Linked DNA regions of Homo sapiens. The protein of the gene in region 1 purifies or fractionates together with the protein of each later gene. This does not show direct contact. Each region holds a gene or a part of one and is shown on either strand. Other genes may lie near its edges. The genes, in order: FBXO38, DEDD2, DNAJC3, KIF20B, DEDD and ARB2A.

Evidence for each region.
Region 2: the proteins of FBXO38 (region 1) and DEDD2 purify together in Homo sapiens (affinity purification with mass spectrometry, with the first as the bait; one large-scale study listed by BioGRID). This does not show direct contact.
Region 3: the proteins of FBXO38 (region 1) and DNAJC3 purify together in Homo sapiens (co-immunoprecipitation; one large-scale study listed by IntAct). This does not show direct contact.
Region 4: the proteins of FBXO38 (region 1) and KIF20B purify together in Homo sapiens (affinity purification with western blotting, with the first as the bait; one study listed by BioGRID). This does not show direct contact.
Region 5: the proteins of FBXO38 (region 1) and DEDD purify together in Homo sapiens (affinity purification with mass spectrometry, with the first as the bait; one large-scale study listed by BioGRID). This does not show direct contact.
Region 6: the proteins of FBXO38 (region 1) and ARB2A purify together in Homo sapiens (affinity purification with mass spectrometry, with the first as the bait; one large-scale study listed by BioGRID). This does not show direct contact.

What each region holds. Positions count from the first base shown.
Region 1 is NC_000005.10:148,421,871-148,425,666, reverse strand, and holds part of FBXO38 (F-box only protein 38), read right to left. Parts: intron 1,670-3,796; coding exon 1,550-1,669; intron 146-1,549; coding exon 1-145. UniProt on the Homo sapiens protein: Substrate recognition component of a SCF (SKP1-CUL1-F-box protein) E3 ubiquitin-protein ligase complex which mediates the ubiquitination and subsequent proteasomal degradation of PDCD1/PD-1, thereby regulating T-cells-mediated immunity.
Region 2 is NC_000019.10:42,197,812-42,200,687, forward strand, and holds the end of DEDD2 (DNA-binding death effector domain-containing protein 2), read right to left. Parts: intron 2,019-2,876; coding exon 1,627-2,018; 3' UTR 787-1,626; downstream 1-786. UniProt on the Homo sapiens protein: May play a critical role in death receptor-induced apoptosis and may target CASP8 and CASP10 to the nucleus. May regulate degradation of intermediate filaments during apoptosis.
Region 3 is NC_000013.11:95,756,994-95,760,789, reverse strand, and holds part of DNAJC3 (dnaJ homolog subfamily C member 3 precursor), read right to left. Parts: intron 3,147-3,796; coding exon 2,994-3,146; intron 751-2,993; coding exon 569-750; intron 112-568; coding exon 1-111. UniProt on the Homo sapiens protein: Involved in the unfolded protein response (UPR) during endoplasmic reticulum (ER) stress.
Region 4 is NC_000010.11:89,736,068-89,739,863, reverse strand, and holds part of KIF20B (kinesin-like protein KIF20B), read right to left. Parts: intron 2,478-3,796; coding exon 1,247-2,477; intron 907-1,246; coding exon 768-906; intron 1-767. UniProt on the Homo sapiens protein: Plus-end-directed motor enzyme that is required for completion of cytokinesis. Required for proper midbody organization and abscission in polarized cortical stem cells.
Region 5 is NC_000001.11:161,126,029-161,129,824, forward strand, and holds part of DEDD (death effector domain-containing protein), read right to left. Parts: intron 1-3,796. UniProt on the Homo sapiens protein: A scaffold protein that directs CASP3 to certain substrates and facilitates their ordered degradation during apoptosis. May also play a role in mediating CASP3 cleavage of KRT18. Regulates degradation of intermediate filaments during apoptosis.
Region 6 is NC_000005.10:94,101,591-94,105,386, forward strand, and holds part of ARB2A (cotranscriptional regulator ARB2A isoform 1 precursor), read right to left. Parts: intron 1-3,796. UniProt on the Homo sapiens protein: Plays a role in the regulation of alternative splicing, by interacting with AGO2 and CHD7. Seems to be required for stabilizing protein-protein interactions at the chromatin-spliceosome interface. May have hydrolase activity.

The DNA.
Region 1 (3,796 bases):
TTTTCTTCACGTTCAGAGTAACGCCGAGTACCGTTCTTAGGAATCCAGACTTCTTGGAGTTCTAGACTATCTTCTTCATCATCACTCTCTGAATCATGAACAGTAATTGAGGTTGGTTTTACTACACGCTGAAGACCACTGGGTCCTTAAAAAAAAGCACAGGCCTAACAGTTACTTTTTGCGCAAGAAAGGATCTAATGCAAAGTACTGTTTCCAGGGATCTGGAATCAACAGAGATGCTTTGTGGCTCTATACAGCCTCCCCTGGCACACATTTTAACTGATAATGCACTTGGATAAGATACTGTGAAAGCAACTCAACTCTAAACCATTATGTCAACATTAAATATGATTAATATGCCAACCAACTTGATGCATTTCCAAAGGCAAATTAAAATAGAAAATGATACAGCATCCCCTTGCAGGACCTTCACTATTTCAAAGAGTATCATAAAATCATCCTAAAAATAATCTAAATAACAGTGATAATAATTTTAAAACTAAGCTATATATTTTCTCAATTTTTCAAACATATGAGCCAAGGCTAGTAAATGAAGATGAACTCAGAAACATATGGGACTGGTAAATAAGACTCCATATTCTTTGAGTATAGATCTATCTCATTAGATGTAGCAGATACATTTTTGAAGGCTAGACGCATGTTACATTTTGGTTGAATATGTGTATTTATGTAAAAAATGTTTTATCTGCTTGGCAGTATAGCTTTTAAACCTAGTTCTTATAACCTAATTCTCTCTGACAAGTGACCAATATTAGCTCCATCAATAAACGTATGCTCCAAGGAACCTAGCTTTTTTCCTGTCACATTGTACAATGCCTGACACAGAGTAGGCACTCAATAAATATTTGTTGAATGAGTGACTGCATCTCTAACACTCTTAAAACAGGGTAGCATATTTTCGATTCAAAGACAAGGTAGCATTCTAACAGGCAGAGAATGAGAAAACTTCAGTTTTCTCAATTTCAATTCTGTCCCTTGATTATTGGCTGAGTGGTGTTGAGCACATCATTTAAACTTTTGAAAGAAAATTAATTTCCCCATCTACAAAATGAAAGGCTATGCGAGTTAATCTTTAAGGGCCTAAGACTCTATATCCTGTCTTAAGTCAGCCAATGGCAAACAGACGCTAGGTTTTGGTTTGTTTACTAAACCAGGTCAACTTCTCAACTGCTCCTCCTCTCTAACTGAATTGAGGGGAGGGCAATAGCAGAATATTTAATCAGGTCATTTATTTTCCCATCAACAATTTGAGTGTTTTCTTTTTCTACACATACATGGACAAACTCATGCACACGTGGCTATAAAGAAAAAGCAGTTGTTGCTGCAGTCACAAATAATAAAAGACAAACTTTAGTAAGATACATGCAACAAGAATACCAGCAATGTATTACAGTTCTCAGTAATCAATAGCATAAAACGTATCATTAGCTGAAAGGTCAGAAAACAATCATTCTCGCTGTCTCATGTACTTCATTACAGTTAGGCCGTAGTTTCAGAATGATGAATGTGGGATGGATCACATGATTACCTGCTTGTTCCTCATCAACATCCACAGGAATAATTGCCTGGCTGTGAGCTGGAGTATTATTTCCACTCTCGGCCACCACCTCTCCATCTTCTTGGACGATGTCTTCCATCTCATTTAATGCTTCAACGAAAATATACACAAAGTAAAAACCAAAAGAAGTATAAAGAACTACAATGGCAGGCAAAACTGTGGCCGCCCTAAGAACTGAACAGTCCCGCTGATTACTAGGCCTGCCCTGAAAGAACAGCATATACTGCATACACTGTGCTTGTTACTGCAGATATTAAGAAGTATTTAATCAGTCTACAGGAGAGAAAATCACAGATGGGAAAGGATCATTTGTTGGAGAAAGCCCATCAAACTCATACAAACTCAAACAGTTAACAAAGAAACAAGGCAAAATATGATTAAGCCAAAAAGATGCCATTCAGATTAATGTCACTGAATTATATGGGAGAGGTTTGAAATTTCACAGGGACAGTGGGAATTGCTTTGGTTTTAAACAAGCACAACAGCACACCTCCCCCTGAATAATTGCCCAGCTCTAGCCTGCAATATCTATATTTTGGTTATTGCCAAAATGAGAAATGACCTTGCCTAGAAACCTTTCATGATAAAAGCCAATCAATTTTCTTCTTTCATTCAATTGACTAACAATTATGAGTAGCAGTAATTAATGTGTACATACTCTATGGCAGGCTCTATGCTAAATGTTTATAGAAACATTTTCTTATTTATTTCTCGTAGCAATCTTGTGTGAGGGCATTATTACTAGCCTGATTTTTGCAGTTGAGGAAATGGAGGTCTAGAGGTTTTAACAGTTTGCTAGGATTTAACCTGAGGAGTTTCTAGAGCCTACTGCACTACAGGAACTATGAGCAAGTGGGAAATTTATACTCCTTGCTCTTAAAGAGGATGCACACATTCTGGCAAAGATGTTAGACACATAGAATAAGGTCAGAATATACTTGCTAAGAGCTATAACAGTTCAAAAGTTCAAAGGGAACACAGACAAGAAACAACTAATTCTCTCATTGGGTCAAGGAAGGGTTCACTGAAATAAGGTGACATTTCATATACCACCATACAAGAATGCTACATTTTTTGGAAGAATAGTAGTCCAGTGGTTAAAACAAACAAACAAACAAACAAACAAACAAACAAACCAGTTATCTGTGTTGTGATAGAGATGCGAAAGAAAAAACAAGGCTGAAAAGGTAGCCTGGGCCCCAGATTGTTAAAAGCTTGGAAAGCCTTGCTAAAAAGCTTAGAATTGTTTGCAGTAGGCAGAGGGAAACCACTAGGTTTTTATGCAGGGAATGGCATGAAAAGAAGTACATTCAAACATCAATGTGATAAGGTTTTCCAAAGTTGCTGATCAACTGCTTTTAGGTTGCCAGAATAGCCTGTGCAAACATTTAATATGATACCCAAAAGTTGTTTAAACGATTTCTTTCATTGCATTCATTTGAATACTTACTGAGCATCTTACTACAATTTGTTAGTATTCCTTGGAGCTGAGAAACAGTGGTGAAATTCAAGATCCCTAGTCTCATGGCTTACTCTAGTTGGGGGAGAAAAAATTTTAAAAATAAAAATAAAAACATCAGATAGTAATGCCTTATGTAACAAAAAGTGTGATGTGACAGAGAATAAACTGGTGGCTGCTTAAGATCAGATGGCAAGGAAAGACATCTCTGAGATTAACATTTCAGCTAAGAACTAAAAGTCAAGAAGGAGCCAGCCATGAAAACATGGAAGGAGGGAATTCTAGGAGGCAGTAGTTAGTGCAATGCTAGGCACCAGCTGTCATGTTCAAGAATGATGTAGTGGTGGAAGTAGTACAAGATGAGGGCAGGCCAGATCGTACAGCATTTGGTGGTCCAATTTAAGAAGCTGGATCTTATTCTAAGGCAATGGGAAGCTATTAAAAAGTTTTGAGTAAGGTATCAATATTGTTTGGTTTGTTGTTAAAAGACTGCCCTGGTTGCTATAAGAACTAATTTTAGCTGGGCAAGAAAATAGGCCAGTTTGAAAGCTATTAAAACATTTAGGTAAAAAAAAAAAAAAGAGAAAGGTCTGATGTAGTGGTAGTACAATGGGAAAGGAGAGATGTAGGCATACTGGAGAGATGTTTCAGAGACATTCAACAAGAGTTGGTAAATGACTCAACGTCTTGGAGAGCAGGTAGGAAGTAAAGAAAAAAAGCATAATGGCTTGATTTTAGTCTCTGGTAATTAAATCGGA
Region 2 (2,876 bases), on another chromosome or scaffold:
TTCATTTTCCAAAGCTTAGGCGCTTCATCAGCCTTGGGTGTAGCTGGCCCACCTCACTGAACAAATTAAAAATCCTGGGAGTGGCCGGGTGCAGCAGCTCACGCCTGTAATCCCAGCGCTTTGGGAGGCTGAGGCGGGCGGATCACAAGGTCGGGAGATCGAGACCATCCTGGCTAACATGGTGAAACCCCGTCTCTACTAAAAATACAAAAAATTACCCGGGCGTGGTGGCGGGCACCTGTAGTCCCAGCTACTCGGGAGGCTGAGGCAGGAGAATGGCGTGAACCTGGGAGGCGGAGCTTGCAGTGAGCTGAGATCATGCCACTGCACTCCAGCCTGGGCAACAGAGCAAGACTCCGTCTCAAAAAAAAAAAAAAAAAAAAATTCCTGGGAGCCCCCAAGGACATACAGGAGCAAAGCATGTGTGAACATGGTTGGAAGGGTTTCTGACTCCGAGGCAGTATTCTATTTCTTCCTTTGACAGAGGACAAGACTGACACCCAGAGGGGAGGACAAGCGTGTGGTTATCAGCTGGCATATGGTCCAGCATCCTGCCCACACTCCAGTCCCTAACGCTGGGCCAGGAACACTCCTCCTCCCAGCCCACTGAGGTCCAAAAGCTGGGCATGGTGACGGGCACCTGTAGTCCCAGCTACTTGGGAGGCTGAGGCAGGAGGATCGCTTGAGCCCAGGAATTTGAGGCTGGCCTGGGCAACATATCAAGACCCTCAACTCTAAAAAAAAAATTTAAATTAAATAATAAATAAAGAGTCCTAGAGAGGCCGATGCCCACCTATGCCCTTTCCAGGGCAGTTTAATTGGTATCATTTGTAAAAGGTCTTTTCCATCACCCCCAAAGCCTTTGCATTCCCTTTCCAAGAAGGTGGCTGTTTACTGGTTTTGGCCCCATGTGCAACAGTAGGCCTTGGTATGATGCTGCCATAACACTCCCATGTGACACTCCAGGTGACATCCAAGTGCAAGTCTATGTTCAGCTCTGGACAGCAGGGGGGAAGGTGAGGAGAGTCAGGTCTGTAAATTGAAGCTGGGCAGGGCCCTGGCTGGCTGGAGATGTGTGGGCAAGGTGAGCAGGCCCCATGTGCACCCCAGCTCCAGTGCCCACTGATGTGGCTGAAGCCCAGGTTGGTTGTGGTCAAATTAGAGGTCCTGAGAGAGAAGCCCTTAGGCCAAAGAAGTGTGTGCTGGGAAGCAGGCCAGGGCAGAGGCCCAGGGAAGATCTCAGCAGGGGCAGTGTGAGCATGAGCGAGTGTGTGCACCTGTGACAGTGCAGACAGCCCAAGATCAGAGATACAATGTGCAGGGGGGCCTTTGGTGAGTGTGTAGCTGTGCCCCTCCCTTCTGAGATACAGGCCCAGCCCCCGCCTCCGGAGGCTAAGGGGGCACACCTGGGGGTAGGAGGAGTCTGGGAAGGAAACTCAGCTGGAAATGGTTTAGGCCTCAGAGCCCACATCCTGTGGGAGGGGCTGTCAAGGGGCCTGCTGTCCCGGTCCTGTCGCAGTCCTCAAAGATGCTAGAGTGACAGTCCTCTAGGGGTAGAGATGGTCGTCCTCCCAGGAGAAGGTGGCCCGGAGACTTGGAGGTGGGATCAATCCTGCCAGTCCTGGATCAGGAGGCCTCTGTCGGGCGCCGCCCCCCTTCCTCCTCCATCAGCAACAGGCGGCGCCGGCCAGCCTCATAGTCAGCCTCATCCACACTGACCAGCAGGCGAACAGCCTCCCGGCCCACAGCCTCTCGCAGGGCCTCAGTCAGGAACACGCCCCGCAGGGCCTGCAGCAGGGCGCCACTCAGGTAGTCGCCCCAGAAGGCGTCCAGATAGGAGAGCTCTGAGAACTTGATGTCACAAACCACAGAGCCCAGGTCCCTTGAGCGCAGCACTGCGGTGGCCTGCCCAAACACGTCCAGCTGCCGCGCCAGCGCCTGGGGCCGCCGGGATGCCACGCCCTGCTCCAAGGCTGGCCCATGCTCGCAGTACTCTGCTCGAACCCGGAGCCGGATGTCTGCAGGGGAAGGAGGGATTTGTCAGGGAGGGGGCCAACACTAGACACACTTATGGGGAACGCCACCCTTCCTCCCTCCAGCCTTCTCCCTCCACCCCCTTCCGGTAGCCACACCCTAGTCCTGACACAGCCTCCCCGGCTCTGTGGGGTTCCCTGACCAAGTACGTCCTCCTCTTCTCCAGCCCACCACCTCCTCACTGCTCCAACAAGCCTCCCCACCGCCAGGGGTGCTCTTTCCCTGGATCTGCACAACACTTGCTCCCTCTCTTCCTGCAGGTCTTTGCTCAAAAGCCACCTTGCCAACAAGGCCCACCTAGGCCAACCTATTTACAGCTGTAACCACCCACCCAGCCCTCTCTGCAGCATGCCAGGTCCCACACCCTGCTCCATTTTTGTCCAAGGCACTTATCACCTTCCAACCTCCTCTGTCAGTTACTATCTGCTCATTATCTGTCTCTACACTCAGCATGGAGAGACAGATGACAGCAAGGAAGGGGTTTTTGTCTGTTTTGTTCACTTGTGTAACTGTGGCACATAGTAGGTGTTCAATATGTATTTGTGAAGAACTAATGCATGAACTAATGGACTTGCCTTAAGGCAACCAGCCTCACACCCTGCCCCCAAACAATGAGATTCACATGGTGCCAACCACATCCCCATCCCTCCCATCCACCTGAGCCAGCACTGCGGATGCGCAGGGTCCTGACCAGGCCCGGGAGGCTTGCGGCTGGACCTGTGCTGGCTCTACTGGGAGTCAGGTACTCTCTTGCCACAGAGCTGCTAAGATGATGGGTTGGAAGCCCAGAGCTGCTGGGAGCCACTGTGCCAAGAGGAGAGAAGGAAGCCTACGCAGGGCCA
Region 3 (3,796 bases), on another chromosome or scaffold:
CTGATGAGCTCTTCAGCTGACTCAATCAGCTTATTAAGTTTCTTTACTTGTTTATAGTGTGCAAAACACCTTTTATGATCCTGGTCAAGTTTAAGACATTCCCGAACTTCACTGTTCATGTATTTAAAAAAGGAAAATACTCCATGTCAAAACAATCAATGAGTAGTTTTCCACAGAAATCACAATAAAAGTATTTTTTGTTTGCAACGATTAAACAAAAACCATACTGAGACTTATAATTTACTATATACATTTATACGTGGCATTGTACCATGCATACATTTGTTAATTCAAATTAAAATGACTTACTAGCATTATATAGTAAACATTCCATTTTGTTTCTATAAATATAAGAGCCTTCCTGTTTAATAAGCAGCTTCATGAAAACAAACTATGTGGAATTAAAGTAACTTGGGAATAACACAAAATATATAAATGGATATACAATATAAAAACAGCCTTAACTACCATCATCTTATTAATTTAATATTAAAATGTTAAAACAAGATGAGGTAATCTTACTGCCAACAATTAAAAAAGATCAGACATGTGTGTCACTAGAACTGACCTGAGGGACAGTTCGTGGTCTCCTAGTTGGTAGTACAGTGTGCTTATTTTATAAAACGCTTCAGTATTATCATTCTTCAACTTTGACGCAGCTTTTAAGTCACTTATAGCTTTCCTAGGTTCTCCTTCTTTTATAAAACATTCAGCTCGAAGTTCCCGTAGTTCTGCATCCCAAACACAAACCTTGAGGAACAAAAGAACTAGACTTTAAGAAAGAATAAATTATGCACATTCATTGTTGCATTCCACGTATTTTTTATCTACGTATTTATCAACATAAAACATTCTCAATTGATGTGATGACTTATATAGTGCAAATATTATTTTAAAATCTGATACAATTTAAATGTGACAAAACTGATGTGACAAAATAGTTTCTCCAAAAATGTTGTAAATGAATTCTAATGGGGGAAGAGATATATATAATAACAAGGCCCTTTTCTTACCTCCTTCGATTATATAATTCTAAGACACTGAAAATAAGAAAACATAGCATTTACTATTGGAGGGTTGTTCCTAGTGAAGCATATTTGAAGAGAATATTCTGTTATCAGATTTTTATACTTAATCAACAATTCTAATTTGTAGTCAAAAAAATAAAACCTAGGTTCTACATTGGCAAAATACTTTTTTCTGCTAATAACCACATTATGTTCTTAGCTGGGCACATTGACTCATGCCTGTAATTCCAGACCAGCTTAGGCAGCAAAGCAAGATCTCATCTCTATAAAAAGTTTAAAATTATTAACTGGGTGTGGTGGAACACACCAGTGGTCCCAGCTACTCAGGAGGCTGAGATGGGAGGATCACTTGAGTCCAGGAGTTCAAGGTTACAGTGAGCTACAATCGCACCACTGCACTCCAGTCTAGGTAACAGAGAGAGACCCAGTCTCTAAACAAAAACCTTTTTTAAGAAATTATCTTCTGTAAATGTCACCGCCTTAAAAGTAAATCCTCATATCAAGAAAAAGAAAGAAAGAAAGAAAAAATACCGTGAGAGGGCAGGAGGTTGAGGCTTCACCATTCCTATTTTATCAAAAAGTCCATAAGGGTTTAGGAAACACAATAGTATTCTTCAAATCATAAACCCAAGAGCTCATCAATAAGGCTGGTGGAAGTATCTTTGCATATTTCTTAGAGCTGCTCTAAAGTCGTATCGACTTTTCACATATACAAAAATATCAAAACCAACATTATACATAAATATCATGGACAATGAACTAAGTTCAAAATGGATAGTCTATGGGAATGTAAAAATGTAAACTATATTTCCTTAAAAAAGCATAAACAAAATAACCCAGTAAAACATGAATTCTACTGGACCATATCACAATATCTTCTGTAAAATTATCAACAAATTGCCCATTCTACATACATCATAAGTTTAGAGCCAAAATTAAATGAAACTGTATATCAAAATACTGTGAAAATCACAAATAAATGTGAATTACGACTGCTTCCATTTGAATATTTCAGTAGACTTCCTTCGGAAATCAGTTGTCATTAAATCCTTCAGAGGCAAGGAAACCTAGACTCAGGTTTCCCTAGCTAGAACTCTCTGGATCCTATCAACCATTATTATTATTAACTTTTTTTTTTTTTTTTGAGACGGAGTCTCACTCTGTGGCCCAGGCTACAGTGTAGTGGCTCACTGCAACCTCTGCTTCTCAGGTTCGAGCGCCTCAGCCTCCCGAGTAGCTGGGATCACAAGCATGCACACCACACCCAGCTAATTTTCTTTTTTTTTTTTTTAGACACAGGATTTTGCCATGTTGGCCAGGCTAGTCTCAAACTCCTGGCCTCAAGTGATCCACCCACCTCGACCTCCCAAAGTGCTGGGATTACAGGCATGAGCCACCACACCCAGCCAATTATTAATATTTTTAGAGGCAGGGTCCCATTCTGTCGCCCAGGCTGGGGTACAGTGGAGCAATCACAGCTCACTGCAGCGACAAATTCTTGGGCTCAAGTGATCCTCCAGCCTCAGCTCCCAAGTAACTAGGACTACAGGCACATACTATCAACTCTTTATCTGCCTTATTCTCTAGAAATTTTTCTCTAAACATTCCTCTTTCCTCCCGAACATCATTTTTCCTTTTACTCCAACCATCTTTTTCATCTTTTATCCCATTATCTAACCGCTAGAGTTTTCTTCCCAAAAAAATACAAAATCAACTAAAATAGCAAAGCAAGCAATTTATAAACATATTTAACTCTCATGCCACAGCACATTCAGTACATTTACTGAAAACTTCAGTCCAAATTTTGTTGTCTAGGAACACTATTTTATACTTAAGAGGCAAAAGCCCAAGGACCAACCTGATTTTCTCCTGTCTAGGTCTTTGTGGTATGTGACATGTCGAAGTATATAAATGTGCCTTACAATAAGTGTCAGGCTGGTCAACTGCAGTATCTAAGAAACTTACCTCTAAAATCTTATCAAGGAAGGCTATAGCAGCAGTATAATCTCCACTTCCAAAAGCGTTAAGTGCTTGTGAACGCAAACGCTGCATTTCATCAGATTTTATAAGTTGAGACTGTGCTTCCTTTTCTTCATTTTCACTTGGATTAGATTTGAGCTATAAGGAAAATAAAAAACTAAGCAGAGTTTTTAATCTCTTAAATCTGATACCTGTAATATACACAAGGGTAAACCATTCCAAATACTTAAGTTCATTGGGTAAAAAGGGTAAAGAGATACTGGAAAAACTGGCTTGTCTGATGACTGGATGCAGCAGGGAAGGCCCTTGATTTCTACCGATATGGTCCATGAGCATGAACAACAGATCTAGACTCAGAAGACCTGGGTCCCAAAAACTTACCGGGAAGCAAATACATGTAGGCACGTGAAAGGACAGAGAAGAACGGAGGAAGGAAAGCACGTTTTTCACTTTCTTACATATAGCTCTGCAGAATAAATTAACTTGAGTTTTATTTATTTTGCCTTCTACTTATAGTTCCTAAGTATTTTTTTAAGTATAAAATAACCAAAATAATGAAACACATAGGGAAACTGAAAGAAGGGGCCAGCTTTTTTAGAGGTTGTAAGATTTAAAAAAAGATCTGATACCAAAAGGGTTAAAGTACAAGAAAGAATTTAGAAGGAAATAAGAGTAATACCTTACTAAAAGGTGCATGATGTGGCTTTAAGAGATCTGCACACTGCCTCTTTTTAAAATAACTTTATAAAGACATAATTTATATAGCATAAAATTGCTCATTTCAAATG
Region 4 (3,796 bases), on another chromosome or scaffold:
AAAAATAAAAGTTTGAGAAGAAAATACTGTTTAGAGATTAAAAAATATGGTTAAATTATATTTTTTAAAGTTTAGATAAACACAACATTCAGTAGTCACTTTTATAGTGGTAGAAACAGCATTTGTTGTATTAATATTTGTCAGACCTTACACATTTAAGTATTATTTGGTAACTACCTCAAAGTTTAAAAAAAAAAAAAAAAGTGCTCCAATCTTTAGAGAAGGTCTAAGTACGACAGAAAATGAAGTGGTCATACAAGAAAATGGGAAGGAGGGAGAAGTGCAGAAAAAGAAAGAAATTGGTAACATTTGATGCTGTGAAGGTAAACTTGACAGCTCGAAGGAGTGGGAAGTATTTCCTTCTCATTGTATACATCTATTATATTTCAAATTTGGAATAATGTGATTGCATTCCCTTTTAAAAATTAAGTTATAATAAAAACTAAAAAATCATACTGCACATTCTCCTAAGTACTATCTGTAAACAAGTTGCTTTCCACTTTTTTGTAAGGACTTACATTTAGCAATTCTTAAAGAAGAAAAAGACTAATCTTTCATAAGGTACATATTTCTCTTAATGTTGGACATTCTTCAGCTTGTTTAAATCAGCTAAATTTTCTCTCGTGAAGTAACTGTTCTTGTAATTTTAAGAAAAATTATAAAGTGGATAAATGTTCTATTCAATCCTAAGATTAATGTCTAAGTTTGATATATAAGGAAAACAATCTTTATCATAAACTGGCCACATAACTTTTCAAATAACCTACCTCTTTCTGTACTTGCTTAATCTGCTTTTTGGCATCAGTCAGTTTCTCTTTCAGGTCAGCATAATCTTCTTCCTTCCTCTGAAGATCTGCTTTCAGATTCTGGGTACGAGCAGAGCTTGCAGAGAGTTCCTCTTTCAATCTAAAAAACATAAACCACTTTTCTATGGTAATGCATCATTAACTGCTTAGGACCATACATGTGAAATGGTAACAATCTTTACAAAATTATATCTTTTCACAAATTTGGAATATCCAAACTATGAATGAGTTCTTCAGAAAATATTTCATATGATTTTTATAAGCTGATCTTTTCACATAACCTATGGTCCAAAGGTTTATATGGACAAAGTTCAAGTTCTTCACTCATCATACATGCTACGCTTTACCAGATTAAGTATGACTATCTAACTTTTTTAAAGCTGCATAGCAAAATGAATGCTTTGTGTATTTTAAAATATTTTGAATAACATTTAGCTTACTTTTCTGTTTCTTGCCTGTTGGTTTCTTCTTCTTCTTCTTTTAATTGAAGTAAATGTTTCATATCTTGCAAATTATTTGTTAACTGTGTGATTTCTTCTTTCAGCTTGAGTTCCTTTACATTTAAATCTTTGGTGTTTTTGACAGAATCCTGAAGATGTTCTTGAAATTCCTTCAAATTTCTTTCTAGCTTTAAGATGATAGATTCCTTTTCCAAAATGTCTTGTTCTAACTTGGCTGAATGACTACATTCAACTTTCTGAGTCTCTAAAATTGTTTCAAGTTCCTTTATTTTTGCCTTATAGCAAGTAACACCTTGTGTAAGTTCTGAAAGCGCTCTCTTTCCTTCAACTACATGCTGTATTTGAACATCAAGAGTAACATTTTTTTCTTGCAATTCTTCTTTCAGCTGCTGTATAAGAGTTTCTTTTTCTTTTAGTAGGTCATCTTGGTTTTTATGCTCCTTCTCCTTTAGTCTATTGTTTTCATCCTTATAGCCTTTTACTTCTGCCTGCAATTTTTCAATTTGTTGTTCCAGTTCCTCAATCTGATGACTTTTTTTGGAAGAGGCCTTCACAATCTCTTTACATTCTTCCCAAATAGCTTCAATACTAGAGTGGAAAGAATTTTCCCTATTGGGTTCTTGAATTCGATATTCTTTAACTTGCTTACTTACCAAATAATCATTACCTAAAAGGTCTAACTGTGTATTTGGCAAATTATCCTCCTCAGAACCATTTGACAGATCCCTGAGATTGAGCAAATCTATGTTTGAAATCTGAGAAACTGAATCAAGAGTACGTAGTTCGTCTATTTTCGTGTGCATTAATTTTATTTGTGAAACATTATTTGTAATGCTTCTTGTAGCAGTTTCTATCTCATTTGACAATTTCATGATCTTTTCCTCCTGTTCTTGATTTTTACTTTTCTGCACATGTAATTCAGCAATTGCAATATCATAATTTGACTGAATTTGTTGGACCTCTTTACTTAAAGTTAAATTCTTTTTTTCAGAAAGAGAAAGTTCCTGCTGAAAATGAACAATCTGTTTATTTAATTCTGCTTTTTCTTCCTTTTCATTTTTAAGTTCATTCTCAATAGTGAGTAAAAATGCTCTCAGTCCTTCATTATTTTCTTGTAAAACTCTGATGTCTTCAATTTCTGCAATGTTCGGTCGCACTTCTTCACTTTTCTTTTGGTCTTCAGTGATAGCTGAACTAACATGGATAGACCCTTTAAAAATAAGAAAATTGTTATTAATCTGGCAAACCTTAATAAAACCAAAAAGTCACCATATAAGCCAATATTCAAACATACAAAACATGTAAAAGTAAACTTCTAATTAAAAAAAAAAAATGAAATAAGCTGTTGAGAAAAAAAGAAAAAACAGGTTTTAAAACATGTGGTATGAGCCCATTTATGTAAAAATTATTATTTCACAAGGTAATACAAAGTTAGCAAAGGAAGTACACCAAAATGATGGCAGCTACCTACCTCTGAGTAGCATTACCAGCTATTTCTAACTTTCAGTATTATTTAAATTTTGTACCACAAATCTTTATTGTCATTTCAATATGGGACAGAGAGGAGGAGATGACGAGAAACCCTAGGCAGACATTCCATATCCTAACGAACAGTTTTAAGCTACAATTATATTGTGGCTTTTACTATATTAGCAATAGGCAAATGGAGTATCTTAAATTTTCATAGCTAAAATTAGAAGGGACATGTTAAAACTTTGGGAATTCATATAATATAGCCTTACTAGCTGTAACCATTAATAAACTGCTTCATACTACGACTGTTTCCTCAAATGTGATATAGGAATAATACCACCTATCTCAAAGTTGTGAAGATCAAGATGACAAATGGGTTGACGACACTGTGCATTGGATAGATTTAACTATTAATAGAACCTGAAAATCTGTACAGAAGGATTCAACTAATTGAAAATGCATAAAAGTTTGCCTTTTTCAGGCTTAATATGTATATTGCTAGAATAAAGATACCCTTACCTGCCCAACTTACTCTACAGAATAATGCTAAGAGACTAAAATGAGTTAATACGTAATGTAAGTTAAATGACTACATAAATGTTGTATACATGTAAGAACTTTAGCCATTATAATCAGTACAGATCAAATTATACCCAGAACAGATACACTATTAGCTACAATTTAATTCATAAGTTCACTCTGACAAATAAACTCACCCCACGTAAGTGCCCAGTATAAATTATATTCTTTTAAACTTTCCTCATAGATTCCATGATTAAATCTTGAAATATAATTAACAATCTTCTAGATATATAAATTTATATCTACATATCTTTTTATATTTCATACAATTTCCATTAAGGGTCAGATGAGTGTCTCAGATCCTCGAAACCTTACTTCAAAACAGGCCAGAATCTGACTCTTCGTTTTTAGAAATTTTTTCCTGTTTTGTTATACTTCATGGTTTGATGTTTATATGATGTTTGCAAGTAGACTTTACAACATTGTTCTGGTACAATTTTTATGTGAATTTTCTACACGACTTTGCTCTAATAC
Region 5 (3,796 bases), on another chromosome or scaffold:
CCTATACTGTGCACTCTCTGGTCACACTCTCCAATCACACAATCAATCCTAAATTCCTGTTAATGCTACTTCTAGATATTTCTTAAATCTATCCTACCTTTCCACCTCCACTGCCATGGTTCAGATTACAATAATCTCTCACCTGGACTACTGTAACTTTAAAAGTTCTCTGCAACACCAATCTTAACCTACCTAAATCCATCCACTGCCACATCTAGTTCAGTTAGCTGTCTGAAGTCCACAACTGACCAAGTCACTTTCCTGCTTCAGACCCATTGATTGCCCCATCGTTATCTATAAGAACACTCCAAACTCTTTTTTTTTTTTTTTTTTTTGAGACAGAGTCACTCTGTCGCCCAGGCTGCAGTGCAGTGGCGCGATCTTGGCTCACTGCAACCTCCGCCTCCCAGGTTCAAGCGATTCTCCTGCCTCAGCTTCCCGAGTAGCTGGGACTACAGGCACCCACCACCACGCCCAGCTACTTTTTGTATTTTTAGTAGAGACGGGGTTTCACCATATTGGCCAGACTGGTCTCGAACTCCTGACCTTGTGATCCGCCTGCCTCGGCCTCCGAAAGTGCTGAGATTACAGGTGTGAGCCACCACGCCTGGCCGAACACTCCAAATTCTTTACACACACATCAAGCCTTCTAAGATCAGGCCTACCTTCCCAACCTCATTTCCCATCACATCCGCTTTTTATTCTCTAACATTATCAGTTTGTTTATAGTTCACATACATCATGCAATTTCTCTATACCTTCTTCAGGCTCTTCTCTTTGCCTGAATGCCCCTCTCCCTTCTCTATTCCACACCCCCATCATCACTCTTTTTCAGATGGCTAACTCCTACTCATTCTTTAAGAGTCAGCTCAGATGCCATCTTCAAAATGCATTTTCTACACCCCCATGCAGAGATAAGTAGTCCTCTTCTGTGCGCTTATGGAACACTATGCATATCTCCTTTACACCATTTATCACCATGTACTAAAATTATTTGTGTATTTATTATCCCATTAGATCCTACTCAACTCATGGAGAGATATATTCATCTTTATATCCCTAGTGCCTAGTAATGGACAGAGCCTCAAATATAGTGGGAGCAACCCACTGTTGAACTGAACTTAATCTCCAAGAGATCACCTCAAGCAATTCCAATTAAGAAACAAATTCACAAAAGTCCAAGAGAGGACCCCATTAAAAACAGATACAGGTAATTCAGTTACCATGCATATATTCTAACTAGCCATAGCCTCCTCTGCAATGTCCAGAACTACCCACACCATACCACACCACTCTACCCTACTCAACAATTAAACAGGTTGCTCTGTCCATTTTATACAAAAAGGAACTGAGGCTAGACTAGGAAACAATAAAATAATAAGCTTCTTTGGAAAAACAAAGCTGATAGAGAAAGCTGAAGAGTAAGTAGGAACTGGTCCTTTCTTCCTCAGATGAAAAACTAAAATGAAAGCACAGAGAAACTCATTCCCTTAAGAAAAGGGGAGGTACACTCTGGGATCACTTAACCCTATACCATGGGTTCTGATATGTAGACAGGAAATGTAATCCATATATAGTTTTGAGAGCCCAGATGCCCCACCCAAAGCATGGGAAATAGCTATTCAACTATAGACTGGTATTCCTTGCCTCTTCCTCTCGATTCACCTGTTGCTGTTACTGGGTACAAATGAAGGTGCTAAAGGAAAATAAGTTATTGCTCATAGCAGGCAACATGAGAAAACTGAGCCTCCTCAGAGCCCCTGCAACTTCTCTTTGTTCCCTATCCCACCTGTTCCCTTGGGCCAGCTGTTGATTGTGAGGCTCTCAGATAAAGCAGATTGGGTAGGTTTCACATTAAACCAACCAGAAGAGCTGGTTGCTCCACAGTTCCCTAATTTAAAGTGTGCTTAAACCCCAGGAAATGAAGAAACACTGTCCCCACATACCCTCGCAATGGAAAATAAGGCAAAATACAGGAAAGCACTGTGGTCCTAATTATGTATCAATGGATGTAATTCTATAAGCTTCAATCCTTTGAAGTTAACTCCCTACATTTGAGAGGAAACAAACACACTAGCCACCTTTAAGTCCTAGATCCCAGGCTAGATCATCAATGTACTAGGAATTATAATAGCTTTTAGGTCAGTGGTTCTGAACCAGGGGCAAATTTGACCCCTGGGGAATATGTGGCAATGTCTGGAGACATTTCTGATTATTATGCCTGGTGGGGAAGGGGACTGCCATCAGCATGTAATGAGTAGAAGCCAGGGATATTTAGAAACATCCTATAGGACAGGTGCAGTGGCTCCCGTCTGTAATCCCTGCACTTTGAGAGGCCAAGGTGGGAGGAACACTTGAGCCCAGGAGTTTGAGATCAGCTTGGACAACATGGTGAAACCCCATCTCTATGCAAAATATAAAAATTAGCCTGGCGTGGTGGCATGCACCTGTGATCCCAGCTACTTGGGAGGCTAAGGTAGAAGAATCGCTTGAGCCTGGGAGGTCGAAGCTGCAGTGGGATGTGATAGCGCCACTGCAGTCCAGCCCAGGTGACAGAGTGAAACCCTGTCTCAAAAGAAAAAAGAAACATCCTGTAATGCACAGAACAGTCTGCCACAACAAAGAATCATGCAGCACAAAATGTCAATAATGCCAAGGATGAGAAACCCTATTCTAGGTGGAGCATGGTAAAGGGTCAAAAGAATGCATGTCACTTTCCACACTAGATCTAGAAAAAGCCATCTGGTCCCTCCATCCAAACCCATCAAACAACATTCCAGAAGAAAAGAAAAGCCTGTCGGACATACATGTTCATTTAACTCCCAAGTCCAACTGCACTAAGGTGTTTCATGCCACTCCAACCTTGGGTCCTCTGTCACCTGCTGTTGCCATTCAGCTGAGGAACAGGTGGTAGTTCTACATCCACTTCTGCCCCATCCCAGGAGGTCTACTTTGACCTAGTTCAATCTGGAGTTCTATGGGGATATTAGAAATGTAATCCTCTGCAAGACAGACACAAAGGATCCTGCTCGTAAGCCTCAGGGTCATCTTTAAAGTCTTGGAACTGGATGAGCAGCAAATTCTCCTTGTGAGGTCACTAATCAGACTTATATTGCTTATTCAATGAAGCAAACATAGAAATATGTAAGTTCCTCAAGGCCATGTGCTTGGGAGAAATATGAGGATACTGTCATGCAGGTTAAGAGGCAGCCCTCTCCACTTAATGCAACCCAGATAAGGGTTCCAAGAATCTATCTAACTTTAACATTAAAAGAATGTGATGAGGCCTCGCATGGTGGCTCACACTTGTAATCTCAACACTTTGGGAGACCAAGGCAGGAGGACTGCTTGAGCCCAGGAGTTCGAGACCAGCCTGAGCAACATGACACAACTCCATCTCTACAAACAATAAACAAAAATTAGCTGGGCATAGTGGGACATACCTGTGGTCCCAGCTACTCTGATCGCACCACTGCACTCCAGCCTGGGGTACAGAGTGAGACCTTGCCTCAAAAAAAAAAAAAAAAAAAGTGATGAAAGTTCAGCTGATTAGTAAAATTAGAAAAGAAAACATGACCAATTTCCTCTAAAACCAAAATATACTCGTATTTCTGTGACAGTGAAGCAAGGGAGCTCAACTTAAAACATACAGAGATTCTAGATGACAGGTATCAGAATGGTGAGGAGAATGTAACCCTCTGAACAGAAAATTAGAACTAACTCAAGTCTTGGTATCTGAAACACTGCCAAATACCAAGAGACGAAACTCCAGCACACAGAAAGTCCTGATCCCACT
Region 6 (3,796 bases), about 54 Mb from region 1:
ATGGAATATTACACAGTCATAAAAAAATGAGATAATGTCTTCTGCGGGAACATGGATGAAGCTGAAGGCTATCATCCTTAGCAAACTAACACAGTAACTGAAAAACAAATACTGACTGCATGTTCTCACTTGTAAGTGGGAGCCAAATGATGAGAACTCATGAACATAAAGAAAGGAACAACAGACACTGGGGTCTACTTAAGAGAGGGAGGTGAGGAGGAGGGCAATTAGCAGAAAAGATGACTATTGGGTACTGAGCTTGATACCTGGGTGATGTAGTAATATGTACAACAAACCCTGTGACACATGTTATCTATGTAGCAAACCTACACACGTATCCCCAAACCTAAAATAATTTTTTAAAAAAAGGAATAACCAGGAAAAAAAAAAGAATACTAAAGCCCTCCCCGTCATAGTGTAAATAATGAATAATTACAAAATGAAACTTTCCTCCTGAAAATTAGCTTTAACTATGTTATATCATAGGAAATAATATTAATAATTCCAAAGTAAAAAAAAAAAAAAAAAGTCAGAGTGTCTTCCTACCTCCAAATGACTGCACCACCTGCCAAAGAATGGTTCTTAACCAGGCTGAAATTATAGACATAGAATTCAGAATCTGGATGGCAAGGAGAATCATCAAGATTCAGGAGAAAGCTGAAACCCAATCCAAGGAATCTAAGGAATCCAATAAAATAATACAAGAACTTAAAGATGAAATAGTCATTTTAAGAAGGAACCAAACTGATCTGATAGAGATGAAAAACTAAAAGAATTTCATAATACAATCAGAAGTGCTGAGAAAAGAATAGACAAAACTGAGGAAAGAATCTCAAAGTTCAAAGACCAATTCTTCGAATGAACTCAATCAGACAAAAATAAAGGCAAACGAATAAAAAGAATGAACAAAATCTCCAAAAAACATGGGATTATGTAAACAGACCAAACATATGACACATTGGCATCCCTGAAAGAGAGAGACATGAGAAAGCAACTTAGAAAACATAATTAAAAATTATGAAAATTTCCCTAACCTCACTGGGGAGGTAGACATTCAAATTCAGAAACTGCAGAGAACCCCTGTAAGATGCTATTCAAGACAACCATGCTGAAGACAAATAGTCTTCAGATTCTCCATGGTCAAAGTGAAAGAAAAAATCTTAAAGGGAGCTAAAAAGAAGGGAGAGGTCACCTACAAAGGGAACCCCATCAGGCTAACAGCTGACCTTTCAGCAGAAACCCTACAAGCCAGAAAAGACTGGGGACCTTTATTCAGCATTCTTAAAGAAAGGAAATTCTAACCAAGAATTTCATATCTAGCCAAACTTTGCTTCATAAGTAAAAGAGAAATAAAATCCTTTTCAGATAAGCAAATACTAAGGGAATTCACTACCACCAGACCTGCCTTATAAGAGGTCCTTACGGAAGCACTAAATATGAAATTGAAAGGCCATTACTGGCCACCACAAAAACAAACACACTTAAGTACACAGACCATTGACACCATAAAGCAACTACAAAATTAAGTCTACATAACAAGCAGATAACAGCATAACAGGATCAAATGTTCACATATCAATACTGACTCTGAATGTAAATGGACTAACTACACCACTTAAGAGACACAGAGTGGCAATTTGAATAAAGAAACATGACCTAACTACATACTATCTTCAACAGACCCCTCTCACATGCAATGACACCCACAGACTCAGAGTAAGGGATAGAGAAAAATCTATCAAGCAAACAGAAAACAAAAAAGAGACAGATTGCTCTTTTAATTTGAGACAAAACAGACTTGAAAGCAACAATAATCAAAAAGGACTAAGAAGGGCATTAAATAATGATAAAGGGTTCAATTCAACATGAAAACTTTAACTACCCTAAATATACATGCATCCAACATTGGAGCACCCAGATTCATAAAATAAGTTCTTAGAGACCTACAAAGAGACTTAGATAACCACACGATAATAGTGGAAGACCTCACCTTGACACCCACTGACAGTACTAGACAGACCATCAAGGCACAAAACTAACAAAGATATTCAGGACCTAAACTTGACATTTGACCAAATGGCCCTAACAGATATCTACAGAACACTGCACTCAACTACAACAGAATATACATTCTTCTTATCTGCACATGACACATACTGTAATATTGACCACACACTCAGCCATAAAGGAATTCTCAACAGATTCAAAAAAAAAAAAAAAAAACTGAAATTATACCACATTCTTAACCACAGTACAAGAATAGATCTCTCAAAATCATATAATTATGTGGAAATTAAACAATCTGTTCCTGAATGACTTTGGGTAAACAATGAAATTAAGACAGAATTCAATAAATTTTTTGAAACTAATGAAAAGGAAGAAATGACATACCAGATTCTCTGAGACAGAGCTAAAGCAGTCTTCAAAGGAAAGTATATAGCACTAAACACCTACATCAAGTAGTTAGAAAGATCTCAAATTAACAACCTAAAATCACACCTAGAGCAACCAAAAAAAAAAAAAGTAAACTAACCCCAAAGCTAGCAGAAGAAAAAACCAAAATCAGAGCTGACTGAACAAAACTAAGACATGAAAAACTATACAAAAGGTCAATGAAACCAAAACGTCGTTCTCTGAAAGAATAAATAAGATTGACAGACCACTAGCTAGACAAATAAAGAAAAAAGGAAAGAAGTCCAAATAAACACAATCAGAAATGACAAAGTGAACATTACAACTGACCCCACAGAAATAAAAAAAAAAAACTCTCAGAGACTATTAGGAACACCTCTACCTACACAAACTAGAAATCTTAGAGAAAAATGGATAAGTTCCTCAAAACATACAACCTCCCAAGATTGAATCAGAAGGAAATTGAAACCCTGAACAGACCAATAGTGAATTTCAAAATTGATCAGTAATAAAAAGCCTACACCCAGAAGAAGTCCTGGAAAAGATAGATTGACAGCCAAATTCCACCCAACATATAAAGAAGAGCTGAAACCAACCCTACTAAACTATTCCAAAAAATGAGAAGGGACTCCTCGTCAAATCATTCTATGAAGCTAGCATCATTCTGATACCATAACTTTGTAGAAACACAACGAAAAAAGAAAACTTTAGACCAATATCCCTGATGAATATAGATGTAAAAATCCTCAACAAACACTAGCACACCAAAACCAGCAGCACATCAAAAACCTAATCTACCATGATCAAAATGGCTTTATTCCTGTTATACAAGGTTGGGTCAACATATGTAAATCAGTAAATGTGATTCAACACATAAACAAACCTAAAAACAAAAACCATATGATCATCTCAATAGGTGCAGAAAAGGCTTTTGATAAAATTTAACATGTGTTAAAAATTTTCAACAAACTAGACATTGAAGGAACATACCTTAAATAAAAAGAGCCAGTTATGACAAATCCACAGCAAACATCATACTAAATAGGCAAAAGCTAGAGACATTTCCCTTGAAAACCGGAACAAGACAAGCATGCCCACTCTCACCACAACTATTCAACATAGTACTGGAAATTTCAGCCAAAGCAATTAGGCAAGAGAAACAAATGAAAGGCATCCAAATTAAAAGGAAGTCATACTATCTCTGTTCACAGATGATATGATTCTACACTTATAAAACCCCATGCTCTCTACCCAATGGTTCCTAGATCTGATAAACAACTTCTGCAAAGTTTCAGGATACTAAATCAATGTCAAAAAAATCAGTAGCATTTCAGCAATAACGTCCAAGCTGAGAGCCAAATCAAGAATGCAATCCCATTCACAA